Linked DNA regions of Homo sapiens: region 2 is linked to region 1. Evidence: fine-mapped expression QTL. A gene starts in region 1. The other region holds a variant in brackets. All regions are shown on one strand. Distances are between the middles of the regions.

The links. PIP is the estimated chance that this variant, and not a neighbour inherited with it, causes the effect.
Region 2: its variant is the best candidate, but not a certain one, in a credible set for the expression of NR4A2 in whole blood (INTERVAL, PIP 0.67).

Annotation. Positions count from the first base shown.
Region 1 is chr2:156,328,436-156,339,150 of GRCh38, forward strand. It overlaps NR4A2 (nuclear receptor subfamily 4 group A member 2), which reads right to left and starts at 4,286. Exons shown (of 8, transcript NM_006186.4): 1 at 4,045-4,286; 2 at 2,233-2,356; 3 at 888-1,753; 4 at 1-98. The coding sequence starts at 1,751. FLJ46875 (a long non-coding RNA gene) reads right to left here. Exons shown (of 1, transcript NR_147695.1): 1 at 8,137-10,715. RefSeq lists a silencer at 4,038-4,237 and enhancers at 4,468-4,547, 6,017-6,889, 6,448-6,547.
Region 2 is chr2:156,443,312-156,454,026 of GRCh38, forward strand. The region is part of intron 1 of GPD2 (glycerol-3-phosphate dehydrogenase 2); the gene reads left to right. Among named protein-coding and RNA genes, the nearest start is that of GPD2, 12 kb to the left of the region's middle. RefSeq lists an enhancer at 2,706-2,765. The variant G/A (reference allele first, on the strand shown) is at 4,958.

The sequences.
Region 1 (10,715 bases):
TGAAATCGGCAGTACTGACAGCGATTCCGGCGACGCTTGTCCACTGGGCAGTTTTTATTTGCTAAACACACGTATTTTGCATTTTTTTGCACTGTGCGCTGCAAAAGGAGACAATATAGACCAACATTTTTTTTCTTCTTTTGAAAATCAGGCAACTCGGAGAAAATTTCTGTTATGTGACTGGGGTCTACGATTCCTCCCCACAAACAAACACATACACACAATTCCATTTTATTTTTTTCTCTTCCTTTTCTTTCTTTCTTTTCTTTTTTCCTCCCCCAGGGCATTTAACAGAAGAAAATTGATAGCGTTAACATTTGAGCTAACCTTGCCGCTCCTTGCTGTGTTTTATATGCCAAGAGAAGGAGAAGGAGACGCTCAGTAAATACAAATCCGTGGGCATTCATATTATTTACATTCCTTGGAGACCTTCTCTATTTAAAATGATAAGATTATTCAATCAGGATGGCGAAATAAAGAGATCACTTAATTTGACCATAGGGAATTCTGTTCCACTTGGTTAGCTCAGACACGGTTCTCTGTCCTAACCAATTTCATTCTGAACAGGGAAGACAGCTCCTAGCACATGCAAATGACCCTCTTCCAACTCCGGCTCCAGCAACTTCGGGCGGGGGCCAGCCGGGTCGGCTGAATGCGAGGGGGATGCGACCCTGGCCTCCCAGTCTTTCTGCTTCCCTTTCTCAGACACCCGGAAGTCCCCGCCGCAGCCCATGGTCTCCTGCAGGGCAGCTTCGGCGGACCCCGGAGAGCTGGGCAGTCCCGGGAGAGCTGGGGCTGGGCTACTGGCACCAAGGCAGAGGGCACACTCCGAGGTCCCGGGCACTAGGGGCTCCCTACCTGCCTACTCCGCTCCCGCCATTGCTCACCTTAAAGAAGCCTTTGCAGCCCTCACAGGTGCGCACGCCGTAGTGTTGGCAGGCCGCGTTGTCCCCACACACAGCGCACAGCCCCTCGTTGGAGGGGGAGCCCCGCGACGGCGGTGAGGGCACCTGCGTGTCGAGCAGCTGAGACGCGTGGCCGATCTGCAGGCCCGGGAAGCCCATGGACGCGGGCTTGCGAATGGGGTTGGGCACAGCGAAGGTCTGCCCGTCCACCACGTGGTGGCTGCCGGCGGGCTCCGGGTTCATGGGGACGTGCAGGGGCCCGTCGAAGCGCATCTGGCAACTAGACACCGGGGTGCCAGGGGGCGATTGCTTAAAGGAGAAGAGGGAGAGGCGGGAGACTGGCGTTTTCCTCTGCTCGATCATGTGCGTAGTGGCCACGTAGTTCTGGTGGAAGTTGTGGAGAGATCCCGGGTCGTCCCACATGGGGCTGTGCTGCACCTGGAAGCCCGGGGTGGTGGGCGTCGGGGGCGAGGAGGGCTTGTAGTAAACCGACCCGGAGTGCGGCATCATCTCCTCAGACTGGGGGGGCAGGTGGCTGTGTTGCTGGTAGTTGTGCATCTGAATGTCTTCTACCTTAATGGAGGACTGCTGTCCGGACAGGGGCATTTGGTACAAGCAAGGTGGCTTGACGTCGTAGCCTGTGCTGTAGTTGTCCATAAAGGTACTGAAGCTGGGGAGAGAAGTGGTGGCAGTGATTTCAGTGTTGGTGAGGTCCATGCTAAACTTGACAAACTCTGGAGTTAAGAAATCGGAGCTGTATTCTCCCGAAGAGTGGTAACTGTAGCTCTGAGAAGCGGGGCTGGCTCCTTGAGGCGAGGACCCATACTGCGCCTGAACACAAGGCATGGCTGGAAATGAAACAGGGTGATAACACACTCAGCCTGGTCAACTGAACACTTTCTCCCGGGCTCGGGTACACCTGGAGCTACACCGGCAGCCCGCGGCAGTCAGAGAGCATGTAGGGGCGCGAGAGGAAAGGCAGGAGAGAGAGAATGCTGCAGAACAACAGTTTAGGGCGTGGAAAGACTAACCAAATAAAGACCCAGAGCTAAAAAGCTACTGAGGGTCTACACTCCTGGGTATTTCCAAACATCTCCCTCATACCCCCCCACTCATCCCACTCAGATGAGCCTCTTCTCTGAAGCTCAGATTCAGCAGTCTCTTTCTAGAAATGACCATCTAGAAATGAAGTTGAATTTCACAATGAGAAAGTTGTTCCCGAAGGCGATGGGTCGGGCAAACCTTAAGTTACAGGGTTTGCCTTGTCCTGTTTCTTGATGTTTGGGGAGCTCTGGAGAGTAAAGGAAAGAAATGAAGTTGCACTAACCTTCAGCCGAGTTACAGGCGTTTTCGAGGAAATTAAAGGTGGACAGTGTCGTAATTCAATGAAGGACAAAGTTTCCAAGATTTTTAGAAAAGCAATGGGGAGTCCAGCCTGTCCAATCTCCTCCCTGAAATACAGACACAGGAAGCTTCAGGGTTTCTTCCCGACAGAGATTCAGCTGGGCATATGTAGACTCACCAGGCAGGCCCTTCCATGCCTTCCCTGTTTGTCTCATTGGAAATGAGTGGGAAGCCTTTACCAAACATAGCACTTAAAATGAATGTATAAAAGAAATGACTTGAAACAACAGAAAATACCACCCATTGCACTGTGTAAATCCTTGCAGAGAGAAGATCCTGCAAGAGGAAAGCTAGTCCATGAACTCATTTAACATTTATGATGTAATGAACTGGCCCCTTTGCTACAGTGTAGGTGGAGAGGTCATTTCCATCTTAGGTTAATTCAGGACCTGAGTATGAAGACTAGAGTATGAAAATACAGCATTGGAACCTTCTCTTGCATTTTTTTTTCTTGTGGTGAAATTGCCTTTTCTTTTGGTAGAGGGGAAGAAAGTAGAAGTCAAGAATATAAAATGAGAAAACAATCTTCCCCCTTACAAAATGTTAGAAAGGCCTTGACTGAGAAGGCAAGTTGAGTGGAAGCATCCGCACTTCTAAAGTGCTTTTGACAGAGCACTGGGATTGGAGCTACAGATAAATTGATGTTCACTTTTCCAGAAAACTTGTCTTTCAGCATCTTTAATGGTCACAAGGCTTAATGGTCACAAGGTGGGAAGAGGGGATCTACTTTTCCAGGAGCTTCTTAGGTCAATTGCAGAGGGGGGACATACTGCTTATATGGTATTGGCACCAATATTAGAAGTGTTTCCCAGCACAGCAAGATGAACACCTTCCCCATAATGCCTTCCACAATCTGCCTTTCTGGAACAAGGCATTCTTGTGTCCTAGCAATTTTCAGATGTTCCCACTTGGAAGACATTCTAGAGCACAGACAATCTTATTACTAATGAAAAAAGAAAGCCAGTATCCTCTCTTTTTATTCTTTCCCCTCCCCCACAATCTTGCTTCATAGTGGTGGTGGGGGTGGGGGGAAGATTACCCAGAAAAAGCAGAAAGGAGACTCGAACCCCACAGCCCTTAGAGATATTCCTGTGTTGGATATTAACCCCCTGGTAGCTCCACAGTTTCATAACTGTACTCTTTACATATTCATATTCTCGCTCTGATACATTCGCAAACCCAAGGACAGCATATGTCAAAACCAGAAATTTCAGGCAACTTAGTAACAGGACACGCTACCAACACCACCCTTACTCAACAATACCCGGGAAACATCGCGCGCTGGCCAGCCGCGGAGACACAGTTCCCAAGCAACGCATAAACTGAAGAACTTCCTCTCCCTGTCAGTTTGTGGGCAGCTTCCCTCGTATACATAGGACTTGGAGTCTCCGTGTTCACAGGCCACAATCAATTCCTCACTAACAGCAAACTTTGCGCACATTTCCGCGGGCTAGTCCTCAGCTCCCAAACTGTGGAGTCTCCCTTCCACGTCCACCAATGAGGAGCCTGGAAACCTCTGTCGAGAGCCAACTCCCCACTAGTGCCAAAGCCGGAGTTCGAACAAATGCCCCCCGGTAACTGCGCGCACGCACTCCCCATCCTTCGGTCCCACTCTCACTAGAAGCCTCTGGCTCCCACTTCCAGAGAACCTGTCCCACACAAGTGGAAAGAAGAGACGTGCAAAAGAAGGAAAAAGCATAAAAGAAGGCGAACTGCATGGGCTGCATCTACTCACTTAGGAGTTCTCCGCGTCTGTCTTCATTCATTCAACTCTGCCGAAGTGCAGTTCCCTCTGGGAGCCCGGGCGCCGGGGTCGGGTAGGGGTGGGAGAGCTGGGCGAAGGGAACCCGGACACCTCACGGAGGGAGGGAGCAGGGACAGGCGGCCGGCTGGACAGGCAAAAGGGACCGCGGAGCCGTGCGCGAGCCGCCGGGCGGACTGGCCCTGGCCGCCAATGTGCCTTTGTTTATGTGGCTTGCGCTGCCGCTGCCAACATGCACCTAAAGTCTCCGCGCGTCAGCGCGCGTCAGCGGCCCGCCGCCCAATCGCCGCGCTGCCGCGCTCCCTGGACTCCTGGCCCGCGCTCGCTTTGGTATATTTCCGACCTGACGTCACGAGCAGGGCCGATTTTAAGGTGGGAACCGCTCTGCGTTCACCTTGGTAGCCAGCTTGGGTGGTTTTTGGTGTTTTTTTTCTTTTCTTTTTTTTTTTCCGAAAGAGGTGTGACCTCTCCCAGGTCTGCGCAGCCCGCAGCGTCGCGACACTTCACTTTCCCCGAAGCCCCTGCGCCCGCGCAGCGGCTCGGCCGCTCACATGTGGGGAGGGTGCAACAAAAGCACCGGCGGAAGGCAAGGCCGGCGTGGCCAGGTAGTACGCACCTGGAGCCGCACGGAATGGGATGTGCCTTGCAGCGCCCTAACCTCTCCCACCCACCTTCGTCACCCCCTTAGCGGAAGAGCGTACAGATGTCCCATGACACGAGACGCTCAGAGGGCTCACGCAGTTCGGGTGGGATTTCCCTACCCGGTTCATCCCCTTTTACTCCCTTTTCCTGTCCCAGGCCTCCTCCTCTTCTGGCATATATTCATTCTAATTATCTCTCTCTCTCACTCTCTCTACCCCACCCCCACCCCCCACACTCCCATCTGAAAGGGAATGGGAGTGGGGGTAGGGCTTATTTTTCTATGTTTCCTTATTTCCATGCAGTGCCCACGTTCGATGGAGGACGTGGTGCTTGCGGGGGGGGGGGAGAGGAAGGGGAGAGGGTAGACAGTGACCGTGACCCAGCTCTTTAGAAACCCCAAAAGTCAGAGTGAAGCGTCGCCCCTTTTCCTTTCGCAGACAATGCAGCCGAGCAGCAGGCAACAGGTGCGCCTTCTGCAGAAAGGTACTCTGATTCCCACCTTCTGCAAACTCTAATACTTTCGATACTCCTCTGTGCCCACCAACTCGTACCCCTTCCACGAGTTTTAAGGGAATAAATCGATCTTCGTTTGAAACACAAGGTCTATCACAGCCTCAATCTTAGAGCCCAGAAAGACTGGACAAGAAAAGCGAAGCGGGTGGGGATTGGGGGCAGCGTCTCCGCAAAGCGTAAGGTGTGAGCCTACAGCCCAGCCAGGAGAGGGGCCCGAGCTGGCTCTGGGAGCGTGTCCCACCCCCGCGGCCGTCCAAGTCGCCGCCGCTTCTGCTTTGCAAGTCATTTCCCCTAGCCACGCCGAGAGCGCAGGGAGCTTTCTAGCAAAGGAAACGCCGCAGCTCCGGAGGGCAAGCCCCCTCCCCGTCTCCCGGCCGGAGCTGGGAGGGCTTCCTAGGGCTTCTCCCGCGGGGCTTCCAGCGGCTGGGCCTTGGGAGGGAGAGTTCGGAGCCGCCCCCGCTTTTCTACTCGCGCAGAGCGTCCCAGCCGCCCCTCCTTTCTCGGTGTGGCTCGTTTCCAGGCAGCCGGGACCCTTTTGCAACTTGCCCCCCTACTCGTGTTCTCAGTACCGGCCGATGGCTCCGTGGAACTATTCGGGATCCCGGGCTGCTCAACCCTAATCTGCAGCCCCGCCTTTGCCTACTCCCTGCTGCCCCCAGCTCGCCGGCGGCTGGGGAGGCGTTGCCATCAGATGCCCTGCGGCTGCCCCAGGAAGCCGCGGGCTCTTTTGCGCCGCAGCCTCGGGGAAACCTACGTGACCACCTTAAGTTTCCCCCAGATGTTGCGGCTGCCGCTGCTGCTGCCGCCGCCGCCGCTGCTCGGCGATGCCCTAGCGGGCGCGAGAAAAAAAATAAAACCAGGAAGTGGGTGGGGGGGGCGGGTTGTGGTGGCGGGTGAGGGTGTGTGAGTAGGGGGATGAGGAGGGGAGGGCGAAGAATAGCATATTAGCATGAGCTCGGTAGCGTCAGCGCCCCGTGGGCAGAAGCGATTCCATGCGAACGAAAGGGAAAAAGTGAGAGTTTGGAGAGCTGGGGAGAAGGAAGGGGGTGGGGGTGGCGGTGACGCAGGGGCGCAGGCATTGACGCACCGGCCAGGCTGGGCCCAAAATAGCAGCAACTCCAGCTCAGAGGCGCCCTCCCGGGTTCCCTTCCCCTTCCGCGAGGGAGCAGGGCGCGGCCACGGGAAGCTTTCCTTGATCCCCGCGGTGGGCCAGGCTCCCGGCCGCTATTTTCAGGCAGTCGGAAACTCAAGCACAGGCACGCCGGGGTGGCAGTTATTATTTTTTAATATAGTCCTAGGAAAACGGGGGCCGGGAGAACTTGAAGGTTGTAACCACCAGCCTCCATACACATACTCCCGTCTAAGTAGATACATTCACTCTGCACGCTTCCCCCTCCCTCATTGCCATTAAAAACACATTCAGTTTAGGTTGGGTTGAGCCTGGGACAATTTGAAAATGCCTCCCCAGAGAGCTGAAAAGTGTCCTGGAGTTCTTAAAGTGAGCTCCAAGGAAGCCAAACATTGTAATATGATGCCTTATTCTTTAATAACAACCTGTCGAGTGCGGCTTCCTGATAACAGCCTTTGTCCAAGTCTTAATGCAACCAAGAATGAAGGGTCGTTTTCACAGCAGCTTATTATAACAATTATTATTAACTGGGAATATAATTAAATATAAAATTAAATATAAATTAAAATGAGAGAAAGGGGAGACCTTTCTCATCTATTCCATCATCTGTGTAAGAGTTCTCTCCTCTTCAAAGTCCTATTCTGGTTTCTGGGAAGCTTTTACTGTTTCTTAGGAAGACACGCCGGATGTAAGACTGTTAAACTCGTTTAAACCAATTTTGAATAAGCTACTTCTTAGGCTAGGGTTTCTGTAAGGCCCGGATGAGATGGGTTGGAAAGGATTCAGCATATAGATCAGAAGTGTTTAAAAAAAAAAAAAAGGCCACGCTCAAAACCCCAGACTAGTTTTCCTCACCAGATTCTGATGGGACGATGTCTCAGTAGCACCGCCAATGTGTGTGTAATTGACTGATCCAGTCAGTAGGGGGCCTGACTCCACAACGTTCAAGAGAATCACTCACACACACACACACACACACACACACACACACACACACACACACACACAAGCTATTTACTACCTAAGCTAAACCAAAGAGAATGCTGCAGGCCCAAATATTCATATTGTGCTGGAATTCATAAATAACTAAAAATCTTTGATTCTCTTCTATTTTCTCCAAAAGGGAAACAGTTTTAACACATGGGATTAGGTTCACAAAAGATTTTCTTTATTTCCTCCTGCTCATGCTTAACTCACTGTTAGGTCACAGAAGGAAAAAATCAAACTGGTAATAAAATCTCTCATTTTATCACCAAGAAGTTCAAATTGGCATACAGTTTGGAAAAATGAAAGCATGTTTTAAAATCCTATGATTACATGTTAAATAAATTATAGTTTAGAAGGAGATTCCTGTGGGTATATTTGCTAGTACATAAGAGAATGCTTTTGTGCATAGAGATTTAATTACACATATGGAATCAAAATGTAGAATTGAACAACCTTTCAGAAAATGTTAAAACGATGCTTTAGGCTAAAAGAAACTGAAATTCTGCATTTATATGACTGTAACCCTTCAAGATTCTTGAACATAAATAGTTCAAATAAAGTATTTTATAACTCAATTAAAATGACAATAATGGCTTTTTCAGGCCCCCGCAGCCGATATAACTTTAAACTATTGCCATGTATAAATGTGTAAAGTTACCCCACAATGAAGGTCTATTTTCTTAACAGTTTTTAAAATGAGTGGGAGTAAAAATTGCACCTATCCTCTTTTGAAACCAACTAAAATAAATTAAAAAGCATTACTATTAAGAAACACTATTGGATGACCACAGAAAAACATTTAGGAAAGTAATGTTACTATATTATCTTTTATGACATTAACCAATATTAGGCAGAACATATTGGTACATGTAAACATATTTTCATTAAAAATCAACATAAATAATACATATACTCACATCTAAACCAAAGTAGTTTATTTTATGCATGGCTAGGCAGATTATACTTAATAAAATTGAGCTTTTGGCATAATTTAGAAAGCAAACATGAATGTAATCCCATAGGATTTTCTATTTTAATGCATAGGAAAGAGGCCTTTAGGGATTTATTTCACCATTCTTCCCAAATGAATTCAGAATAGACCTTACAATGCAGATATAGTGAAACAGACATACCTGTTATGCTTTACGAGTTGAGGCAACTTTAAGATTTTTCATAATAAAATTACTTTGTAGAACCTATTTTTAGCATTACAAGATATATATTTTAAATTACATTTGGACAAACTCATTCACAGCATTTGTTGCCATTGGGCAGTAAGTCACATTACTGATACAAGAAATAAATTTTCACTTTGAAAAAAATCTGTTTCTGAAAATACAAAATTAGTTTTTACTTCTGAAAGTGTTTTTATTGTTTTGCTTTTGCCATTTCATTTGCATTGACAGGATAGTAATTGACCAAATTGTTTGTTCCTTTCTCATAGGATGGTTAAAGAACAAGTCAATTGCTTTGTTAATATTCACATTTTGGATAGTTGTAGCTTTTATTCAGTATTTCTCAGCCGATTTTTACCAAAAACCACTTAACACAAATACTTTTAAAATTATTTCTTTCTTTGATACAGAACTCAGTACTAGAAATGTGTAAAGATGTGCAGAAAAAAAACAGCATTCTTTTTTCTGGAAGCATCTTCTTGTAAATTGAAATTATAAAACTGAACATATGGTAAAACCTCATGCCACTCAAAAAGTATTTTGCATAATAAAAATCCTTCATTTTTTGTTAATACTTGACACCCAGTAACCATCTCCTAAATACTTGCTTTTAAATTAACCACTTAATATTTTCTTATTTAAGAACTATTTTTTATTAGGCAAAGAAGAATAACTTTGGTTTTAGATTTCATTGCTAATTTTAGTAAACATAGGCATCACTAAAATGTACAAAGTCCTAAAAGACAGTTTAAAGATTATGAAAATAAGTTGCTACATGCTAAGAAAACATCAAATATCTGCAAATTCTAAAAGTAGTTAATAGCATTATAACACTACCAGTATTAGATAGCATTTATTTAAATTTAGATAAAATACATACATTTTGCAAGTTTTTATATGTAAATCACAAGCTGGCTAGTTTTTGTTCTATCTTTAATGATAAAATAACCACTTTTGATTTTTTCCTCAGACTAATTGGTGGATGGAATGTCTCAATTTAATTTTAAAAATGAAGGTATTGATAATATTGCAACAGAGACATATATGCCCTTTTTCTCATCAGAATTCTGCAATTATCAAGCCTACAATTTTAACACTACAAAAGTAACTTAAAGCAAGGACCCTTATAGTGATAAGTAATAAATCTAATTACCATATCCTTTGAATAGATGTAATATAAATTTCATTGCTCACTTAAAAGTTCTAAAGTTAACAGCATAAACTTGAAGTTGAGTAATTAAGTAATCCTTATATAGACACTTATTAAAGTATTTATACATATTATCTTAAATCTACATCTATCATTTTGCCAATTAAAATTAGGACTTTAATTGCAATTAAGTAATTTAATTGCCAATTGAACAGCAAAATTGCTAAGTGACTAATTTTAATGCCTATTTTAATTACCAATCATGACTGGGGAGGGAGCTAATCAAGTTACATCAAGCAGCACCAGAGTAATGATGTGAAAAAAAAAAAAAGGGTAGAACAAACATTCAAGGCTACATGCTTCAAAAAAAGAAACATAAATTAAATAAATGCAAACACAATCCTATAAATGTATAAAATACTGTATTTCAATATCTCAATACAGAACATGAAAGGAAACAAGATTAATTAAAGAAACCCCTGTCAATCTTCAAAGTAAGGACAACCAAAGTCAAATTTTATATGGTATTTACATGGCACCCATGCTAACCCAGATAAAAACAAAAGCTGTATACAGTCGAGAATAAAAGGCTGTTTCCTGCTTGGCTGGTTAAATATTTACAGACTGGCAGTTAAAAAAAATTCTTAAATGAAATACCATAAAACAGAGAAACAAGTTTCCAAATGCAACAACGTGGATTTTGCATTTGAAAAGCCAACAGGGCAAGTGCAATGGGGCACTATACTCTTTCCTGGTTGTTCCTCTCAGCCACACTCACTTGAATGAAGAGTTCTATGAGAGGCCTAATGCCTATCCATAGCTGTCCCATGTTACCCTGAGAAAAACAGACACCTGGCCAATCTTAAATATTTTAAATTTATTCGGGAGTAAAAATAAGAAAGCGGCTAGGATTACATCACAGTTAAAATTATTTGGCATGGGGAATATACCTAATTCAATAGTCATTCTTCATTCAGTTAGAATAAACATGCCCACTCAAGATAAAGGCTGAAAACCAGCAGGCAACCAGAAACACTGGTGAAATTTT
Region 2 (10,715 bases), 110 kb after region 1:
AGATCATGCTGGATCTTACACAATTTTGTAGACCTCACATGCCTAATCCAAGTGCCTTTCATGTGGGTGACACCTAGTAAGCAGTTGTTCATTAATGGTTGCCCCATAATTCAGTCATCCCCAATTCAGCAATAAGTGATAAGAGTGTGCTGGGTGTGATTGGACACCAGATACCACACAGGCAGGTGTATTTCAGGTAATCTATTCAACTGGATACTTTAAGCTTCATCTTTTTTTAGGCATCTCCCTCCCTACACATTTGGCAGTTTTAATCTTTTTATTTTTATTTCAAAATTTTTTTCCCTCCCAAGGTGCTGAGAGGTTTAATATCTTAAGGATATTTAGGAGAGGGAAGGGGCGAAGTGACATTATAAAAGGAATCCTTGAAGAAAATCAGTGGAGGAATCTACAAATAAGGAGGCCACTTAATGTCCACTGAGGACTCAGCACCTCTGTCAGGACACCAGGGCTTCCTTCTCTTCACCAATTTCTCCCTTCCCCCTACTTACCCACCTAATCCAATCTCTTAAGAAAGAATCTGGAAAATGAATTCCTAACAAGATGACTTACAAAAATTACCTTGTCCCCCTTATCAAAGGCGTTGGATTCTATGGGGACAGCGCATTGGGGACCATTTATGTGGGCTAGGTCAAAGGTGGGCAGTGCCTACTTCTGAGCATCCCTGCAGCCACATTATAGCCACTCAAGTGTGGCTTTGGTCACTGTCTGGACCTTTCACTTTTCTCCTTGTCAAATAAGGTGGCTGGACTGGATGAATTTGAAGTCCATGGAGAGCATGAAATGTTTATTTCTCTTGTCCTGCCTAAAAGGAAGCCAGTCATGGCCACTGGGTTCTGTTTGCCTCTGGACCCTGGCCTAGATTTTCCTTTTATTACCTGGAGTTTGGGGTTTCCTTGCTCTCAGCCTCTCCAGGTATAGCATTCACATCTAGAGGCTGCCACATTCCTTTTATCTCTCTTCAGGATTATGCTCATAGGACCTATCATAACAAGTATATTTTCACTTTTTTCTTTCACTGTGTTTGCTAGTATTAACCCCTTTTCCCCATCCCCATCCGCCATTAAGTAGCTGGGATACTTATCTAAAAAATATAGATTCCGCAGGGGGCAGTGGCTCATGCCTGTAATCCCAGCACTTTGGGAGGCCGAGGCAGGTGGATTGCTTGAGGCCAGGAGTTTGAGACCAGCCTGGCCAACGTGGCAAAACCCTGTCTCTACTAAAAATACCAAAATAAGCTAGGCGTGGTGGTGGGTGCCTGTATTCCTAGCTACTCGGGAGGCTGAGGCATGAGAATTGCTTGAAGCTGGGAGGTGGAGGTTGCAGTGAGCGGAGACCACGCCATTGCACTCCAGCCTGGGCAACGGAACAAGACTGTCTCAAAAACAAATACACACACACACACACACACTAACATAATTTTATTTATTATTATTTTTAAAGACAGAGTCTTGCTCTGCTGCCCAGGCAGGAGTGCAGTGGCACATTTATAGCTCACTGCAGCTTTGCACTCCTACGTCACGCGATTCTTCTCCTCAACCTCCTGAGTAGCTAGAATGACAGGTGTGTGCCACCATGCCTGGCTAATTTAAAAAAAATTCTTAGAGACAGTGTCTCACTATGTTGCCCAGGCTGGTCTTGAACTCCTGGCCTCAAGTGATCCTCCTGCCTTTGCCTCAGAAGTGCTGGGATTACAGGCATGAGCCCCTGTGCCTGGCCAGATTCACAGAATTTTAAAATAGGAAGGAGTTTAGCAATTTAACCTAACGTGGTCTTTTTCTTATTAATAATAAACAGCAATGACAAGTATTTATTAAGCAGTTGCCATTTTCTAGGCACTGTGCTGAGTACTTTGTGCACATTTTTTAATGTATCAACAGTGAACCCTGTCATATCAGGGAGCAAAAAGGCACAGAGAAGTTAAGGGACTTAAAGCCATGCATGTGGTTATTTTCTGGTATGGCAGAAACTCCCTTAAAAACTGTTTTAAAAACAATAGAATCGAGAGATAATCCTATTCCTATTTCTGTAATGTATTTCTTGACTTTTGCAACATTGTATTCCACTGCCCAACCATTGAACTGTGCCATTTAACACTTACACTTCCTAATACTTTACCTTGTAGTTCACCAGTTTTCACCAATGATGCTGAACTTGTTTAAATAGTTGCATACATAGCACAGCATGCCTATAATGACATTGCTTATGATTTGACTTGTAGGAATCCACGAAGTTGTTAAAATTTTCTTAGTCTTAATGGATGTAGAAGCAATGTGCAACTTGGTATCAGTCTTCTTTTCTACTCCTATACTTGGGTTTCTGATGGTTATTGTGAAAACGAAAATGATTATGTGTATTGGAGATGTATAAAAATGTATGTTCTCCAGCCTTAGTCATGAGAGAGTTATCTTACCTTTTTCTACACAATACCTTTTTCTATTTCTTGCTGTAGTTTTTTTCAAACTTTCAGCATTTTCTTTGAGTCTTTTATGTCACCCAGGCATTTCTTTATTAAAAGATGATGGTTAGTGGTTAGGGTAGGCTCAACCATCATAACTGAAAGGCCTGAAAATAGATACAAGCTCAAGCACAAGTTTAATTTTTGCTTATATCATGGTCTTTGTTGGTGGATCACTTTCCTTTCAATGATTCAGGCACTCTGGATTCTTCCATTTTATGACTCAGCAATTCCTTAGGGCTTTCTTTTCAACTACAGCCAGCCAGTGGATGGTGAAAGGGAAAGGCAGGAAGCATATCTACTTTCTAAACACACACTTATTTTTTTTGAGATGAGTCTCGCTCTGTTGCCCAGGTTGAGTGCAGTGGGACGATCTCAGCTCACTGCAACCTCTGCCTCCTGGGCTTGAGCGATTCTCCTGCCTCAGCCTCCCAAGTAGCTGGGATTATAGGCATGTGCCACCATGCCCGGCTAATATTTGTATTTTTAGTAGAGATGGGGTTTTGCCATGTTGACCAGGCTGGTCTCGAACTCCTGACCTCAGGCAGTCCGCCCGCCTCAACCTCTCCAAGTGCTGGGATTACAGGTGTGAGCCACTGCGCCTGGCCTTAAACACATAATCTTGAAATGAATGCATTAGTTCTGTTCATATACCATTGGCTGGAAGTCTGTTGTGTAGTGATACTTAGCTGAAAGGGAGATTGGCACATGTAGTCTAGCTGCAAGTCCAGGAAGAAGAGAATATGCATTTTTGATAATGACTTAGCTGTCCCCTTCACAGTGTCCTTGCATTTTTTTTTTTTTTAAGATGGAGTCTGGCTCTGGCACCCAGGCTGGAATGCAGTGGCACGATCTTGGCTCACTGCAACCTCTGCCTCCTGGGTTTAAGCCTCAGCCTCCAGAGTAGCTGGGATTACAGGTACGTGCCACCATGCCTGGCTAATTTTTATATTTTTAGTAGAGACAAGGTTTCACCATGTTGGCCAGGCTGGTCTCGAACTTGTGATTTGCCTGCCTTGGCCTCCCAAAGTGCTGGGATCACAGACATGAGCCACAGCACCCGGCCCTTGCCTTCTATTATTCTGAGAGAATTGAAATAACATGTCAAATCTTAAAATTTTTCTCCTTTCCACATCATTTTTATATCTGAATCCATCAACCCCTCATTAATTCTTGACTTAGAGGTGGTTATCCGAAGTTGATGCTTTCCCCCGTACTCTGGATCCCCCATTCCCTTCAGATGCCTTATTCTATGACATTTTTCTATGCTTACCTGCATGTATTTATTTGTTTGTTTGTGTTGGAGATGCTGAGATGCATTTCAAATATTTACAAGAATGCTCAAGATTCTCCCATTACAAAAACAAACAAGACCAATAACCAACATTGCACCTGTGCCCCATTCTGCCCTCTTGCTACATGCTCTCTTTCTCCTTTCCTTCAAGCTGTTCTTCCTTAAAGTACTTTTTGTGCATTATTTTTCTACTTCTTCACCTTCCATTCCCTCCACAACTGTTGGAATCTGTCTTCGATCTCAGATGAATCTCTCTCTTTTTTTTTTTCCTGAGACAGGGTCTTATCCTGTCACTCAGGCTGGATTGCAGTAGCACAATCATAGTTCATGGCAGCCTTGAACTCCTGGGCTCAAGCGATCCTCCTACGTCAGCCTCCTGAGTGGCTGGGACCCCAGGTTCAGGCCATCATACCTGATTGATTTTTACTTTTTTTATAGAGATGGAGCCTTGCCATGTGGCCCAGGCTGGTCTTGAACTCCTGGGCTTGAGCGATTCTCCCTCCTTAGCCTCCCAAAGTGCTGGGATTACAGGTGTGAGCCTGGCCCAACTCTGCTCTTGTTATGATTATGAGTGTCCTCTTGACTGACAAATCAATGAGATTTTATTATTTAAAATTTCCATGATTCTGCTCATTCTCTTTTCTGTGAAACTGAGTTTTCACTAGGCTACTGTGACATCTTCTCTTGGATTACTCCTTATGGATCTCTCTGCAGGTTCTTTGCCTTGATATTGGAATTCCCAGGGTCTGTCTTTAGTTCACTCTCTTTTCTCTGTTGATGCTTTTTCAACAAGTTCATCAATATCCCTGATTTCAGTCAATCCCAAGTCAACATTCTTGGGCAGACTTATTCGCTGAACTCAGGCATTTCCACTTGCATGTCCCACAGTTGAGTCAGGACCCATAATTTCTTCCTGCTTTCCCATGCTATTCCTTTCCTTATTGACAAATGCCATCATCTTTTCTCTCACTGCCTACATCATCCATCCATTTGTTTGTTAGGTCTATCAATCACCTAATATGTGTCAGCAATTTTCCCTTTTTTTTTTTTTGACTCTTGCTCTGTTGCCCAGGCTGGAGTGCAGTGGCATGATCTCGGCTCATTGCAACCTCCGCCTCCCAGGTACAAGCAATTCTCTGCCTCAGCCTCCCGAGTAGCTGGGATTACAAGCACCTGCCACCATGCCC[G/A]GCTAATTGTTTTGTATTTTTAGTAGAGACGGGGTTTCACCATCTTGGTCAGGCTGGTCTTGAGCTCCTGACCTCGTGATCCACCACCTTGGCCTCCCAAAGTGCTGGGATGGGATTACAGGCGTGAGCCACTGCGCCTGGCCTATGTCAGCAATTTTTCTACAAATAAGATTATAGTGGTGTACAAAACAAACACAGTTTCTGTTCTTGTAGAATTATGTTTTAGTGGGGAACAAAGAAATAATAATGCTTAAATAAAGGAGAGACATGAGAAGATAAGAGTTGTATGCATACTTTGGATTTGAATAATTTGGGAAGGCCTCTCTGAGGACTTGACATTTAAGCTGAGTCGTGAATGACTGGAAGGAGCTTGCCATGCAAAGTTGAGGAGCAGAGCATTCCAGGTAGAGGCAGCTGGCCCCAAAACACTAATAGTAATCCTGATTTGACAGACATCAGAAGGCAAATAAATCTGGAACTTAGTGGGTAAGAGTGAGAGGTGTCTGTATTGGTGTCCTGTGGCTGCTGTAACAAATGACCACAAACTTGGTGGCTTAAAACAACAGAAATTTATTCTTTCATCATTCAGGATGCCGGAAATCTGAAGTCAGTTTCACTGTGCCAAAATTAAGGAGTTAGCAGGATGTGCTCCCTTCTGAGGAGTGAATATGGTCCTTAACTCCTTCAGGTTCTGGTGGCTTCTGGCATTCCTTGGCTGTGGCTGCATCACTCCAGTCTCTACTTCTGTGGTCACATCATTGCATTCTCATCTGTATCAAATCACCCTGTCTTCTTCTTACAAAGATGTAAAGTGATTACATTTAGGGTTCCCCCTGGTAATTCAGAATAACCTTTCCCTCTTAAGGTCTTAATTTAATCACATTGGTGAATTTTTTTTTTTCCTTATAACATTCACAGGTTCCAGGGATTAGGATGAGGATATGTTGTGGGCGTCATTATTTAACCTACTGCAGTGAAGGGCTGGATCCTATAGGTCTTTATAATCCAAGGTGAGATGTTTAGATTTCATTCTAGGGTGCTAGAAACCATTAGAGGATTATATGCAGGCAAGAGAAACTGTGTGGTTTTGCTATAAAGTAGTCTTTCTTAATTTCTTCTCACTGTACCTTTCCAAGAAGAAAAATTAAATTAAAATTAATTAATTAAAAACTTAATTTCTCCCCAACAAGAGAGTACTGCTTAAATGCTAAGAAGATTTTGTTGGGTAGAGTTGAAGTTTGGAGGGCCACAGACAATTGTAATATGCAATATTTTTTCACCTGCCAAGAAGCAACTGTGGGTGATATTGCTCTCATTGAGAATACATGCCATCAAAGATTATGCTGGCTGCTACAAGTAAACAGAATATGGGAAGTGGGAGTTAGTTAGTCTGTTTTGGTTGCCCAACCAAGAACTTATTATTGAATGGACAACCATTGTATTAAAGATAGAAAAAAGTGGCCTGGGCGTGGTGGCTTATGCCTGTAATCCCAGCACTTTGGGAGGCTGAGGCGGGTGAATCACATGAGGCCAGGAGTTCGAGACCAGCCTGGCCAATATGGCAAAACTCCATCTCTACTAAATATACAAAAAAAAAAAAGCCGGGCATGGTGGCACATGCCTGTAATCCCAGCTACTAGGGAGGCTGAGGCAGGAGCCTTGAACCTGGGAGGTGGAGGTTGCAGTGAGCCAAGATTGTGCCACTGCACTCCAGCCTGGGTGACAGAGTGAGACTCTGTCTCAAAGAGAAAAAAGCATAGAAAGAAGTGGATAGATTCAGGATATATTTTTGAGATAGAATTAGTTGGGTGAACTTGCCTGCTAGATTATTTGGAGGAAAGGAAGAAGAATAAAAGAAAGGCTTGCATTTTCTATTTGAGAGCTGGTCCACTTACTGAGAAGGGGAGAGCTGGGAGAGAGGCAGACTTGATGGAAGATATAAAGTGTTCTGCTTTGGCTAAGTTTGAAGTGATTATTAGATATTCCTTTGGAGATGTCAGACAACTGGGTGAATGGGGTTTGGAGATTCTGAGAGGGGTTTGGCTGAGGATACAGACTTAGGAATTATTTGCATATAGGTTATATTTGATACTGGATGGAGTTACCTACAGAGAATGTATATAGAGAGAAGCAGGCCATTGAGCAACTATTATATAGAAGAGAAGGAGGAGTTGCCAGTGGGATGGGATGGAAAGCAGAAGAGCGTGGTGTCTCTGAGGCTAAGAATTCAAAAGATATTAAAAAAGAGACGGTTCTACTATGTTAATTATAGAGATTACATTTGGTGAAATGAGGTCATTTGTGATTTTGACAATTTGACATATAGTTTAAGAAGAGGCTGGGACAAAGTTTATTGGATTAAATTGTGGAAGTGGAGACAGTTCTTATAGACAACTCTTTTTTTTTTTTTTTTTATTGCTCATTCTTGGGTGTTTCTCGCAGAGGGGGATTTGGCAGGGTCACAGGACAATAGTGGAGGGAAGGTCAGCAGATAAACAAGTGAACAAAGGTCTCTGGTTTTCCTAGGCAGAGGACCCTGCGGCCTTCCGCAGTGTTTGTGTCCCTGGGTACTTGAGATTAGGGAGTGGTGATGACTCTTAACGAGCATGCTGCCTTCAAGCATCTGTTTAACAAAGCACATCTTGCACCGCCCTTAATCCATTTAACCCTGAGTGGACACAGCACATGTTTCAGAGAGCACAGGGTTGGGGGTAAGGTCACAGATCAACAGGATCCCAAGGCAGAAGAATTTTTCTTAGTACAGAACAAAATGAAAAGTCTCCCATGTCTACTTCTTTCTACACAGACACGGCAACCATCCGATTTCTCAATCTTTTCCCCACCTTTCCCCCCGTTCTATTCCACAAAACCGCCATTGTCATCATGGCCCGTTCTCAATGAGCTGCTGGGCACACCTCCCAGACGGGGTGGTGGCCGGGCAGAGGGGCTCCTCACCTCCCAGTAGGGGTGGCCGGGCAGAGGCGCCCCTCACCTCCCGGACGGGGCAGCTGGCAGGGCGGGGGGCTGACCCCCCCACCTCCTTTCCGGACAGGGCGGCTGGCCGGGCGGGGGTGCTCCTCACTTCCCAGTAGGGGCGGCTGGGCAGAGGCGCCCCTCACCTCCCGGACGGGGCAGCTGGCAGGGCGGGGGGCTGACCCCCCCACCTCCCTCCCGGACGGGGCGGCTGGCCGGGCGGGGGGCTGACCCCCCCACCTCCCTCCCGGAAGGGGCGGCTGGCCGAGCGGGGGGGCTGACCCCCCCACCTCCCTCCCAGACGGGGCGGCTGGCCGGGCGGGGGTCTGACCCCCCCACCTCCTTCCCGGACAGGGCGGCTGGCCCGGCAGAGGGGCTCCTCACTTCCCAGTAGGGGCGGCTGGGCAGAGGCGCCCCTCACCTCCCGGACGGGGCAGCTGGCAGGGCGGGGGGCTGACCCCCCCACCTCCCTCCCGGACGGGGCGGCTGGCCGGGCGGGGGGCTGACCCCCCCACCTCCCTCCCAGACAGGGTGGCTGCCGGGCGGAGACACTCCTCACTTCCCAGACGGGGTGGCTGCCAGGCGGAGGGGCTCCTCACTTCTCAGATGGGCGGAGGGTCTCCTCACTTCTCAGACGGGGCGGCCGGGCAGAGACGCTCCTCACCTCCCAGACGGGGTCGCGGCCGGGCAGAGGCGCTCCTCACATCCCAGACGGGGCGGCGGGGCAGAGGCGCTCCCCACATCTCAGACGATGGGCGGCCGGGCAGAGATGCTTCTCTCTTCCTAGATGGGATGGCGGCCGGGCAGAGACGCTCCTCACTTTCCAGACTGGGCAGCCAGGCAGAGGGGCTCCTCACGTCCCAGACGATGGGTGGCCAGGCAGAGACGCTCCTCACTTCCCAGACTGGGTGGCGGCCGGGCAGAGGCTGCACTCCTGGCACTTTGGGAGGCCAAGGCAGGCGGCTGGGAGGTGGAGGTTGTAGCGAGCCGAGATCACGCCACCTCACTCCAGCCTGGGCACCATTGAGCACTGAGTGAACCAGACTCCGTCTGCAATCCCGGCACCTCTGGAGGCCGAGGCTGGCGGATCACTCGCGGTTAGGAGCTGGAGACCAGCCCGGCCAACACAGCAAAACCCCGTCTCCACCAAAAAAATACAAAAACCAGTCAGGCGCGGCGGCGCGCACCTGCAATCGCAGGCTGAGGCAGGAGAATCAGGCAGGGAGGTTGCAGTGAGCCGAGATGGCAGCAGTACAGTCCAGCTTCGGCTCGGCATCAGAGGGAGACCATGGAAAGAGAGGGAGAGGGAGACCGTGGGGAGAGGGGAGAGGGGAGAGGGAGAACTCTTTCAAGAAGTTTCATTATGAAGGAAAGCAGAGACGTGGAAAAGTTCTTGGAAGAGGATATTGGTCAAGGGAGGGTTTGTTAGAACTAGAGGATAATACAGTGAATTTCTATGCTGACAAAATGATTAAGTAGAGAAGAGGAGCTGATGAAGGTAGGAGAGAGTGGTGGGTAATTGTACAAATAAAATTTCTGAAGAGCCAGGAAGGAAGGGGATCTAGTGTACAAATAGAATGATTGGTCTTTACTTGAAACAGGCACATTTTATTAGTAAAAGGAAGGACTGCAGAGAGAATGAGTACAGAGGTGGATAAGTCATCATTTGGGTGGTGGGAAGATGAAATTTTTACCTAGTTGCATCTACTTTACTTTCCCAGTGAAGTGTGATGATATTGGGGTGTGGAGGGGTGAAACAGGTTTGGGAAAAGAGATTTCAAATGGCTATTTTGAAACATCCTGGGGAAATGTAATAGGATTGTGGGTCAGTGTGGATTGCACATTAATGATTTGCAGCTATGAATTTAAATTGAGGCCAGTTGTGGTTGCATGTTTTTTTTCCCAGGCAGTTTCTTCAGCTGTTTGGGTGGAGATGTGAAACAGGCAGATAGTTGGGTTTAACTGGTTTGGGGGTTTGCCAAGTAAAAATGAAGCATGAAGAGAGGAGCAAGGGAGTTAAGGGTGCTTGGAAGGGAGAAATTACAGTGATGGACCTAATTTAATTCTCAGCTAGGCAGCAGGAGAAGTGACTGATAGTGAAGCAAATAGTAGGGTCAATGGACTGAAGGGCCAGATAATGCCAAGATGGTGGAATGGAAATTCCAGACTACAGTAGATAAACTGAAGAAAGAGAAGGTGGTGTTTACAGTGTAGGGTGCTTGAGGCTGGAGTCTGCGGAGTTGATATAAATAGTGGGGATGCCCAAATCAGAGGTTATGATAATGAGGTAGGGTCAAACAAAGGTCATCAGAGGTGAGGTGGTTGAGGAATTGGAGCCTTCATGTAGTTGTAGAAAACAGCAATGATGGCCGGGCCTGTAATCCCAGCACTTCGGGAGGCTGAGGCGGGTGGATCACCTGAGGTCAGGAGTTTGAGACCAGCCTGGCTAACATGGCAAAACCATGGCTCTACTAAAGATACAAAAATTAGCTGGGCATGGTGGCACATGCCTGTGATCCCAGCTACTTGGGAGGCTGAGGCAGGAGAATCGCTTGAACCCGGGAGGTGGAGGTTGCAGTGAGCTGAGATCACGCCACTTCACTGCAGCCTGGGTGACAGAGTGAGACTCTGTCTCAAAAACAAAAAACAAAACAAAAAAGAAAACTGCAATGATGAAGACAGATGAGTCTGGAAAGGGAAATAGGTATGAAGGTCATCAGCAAATAAGGGGAAATAGCAGTAGTTGGGTAGATGACAGCGAGAAGGGATAATGGGTGGTAAAGTC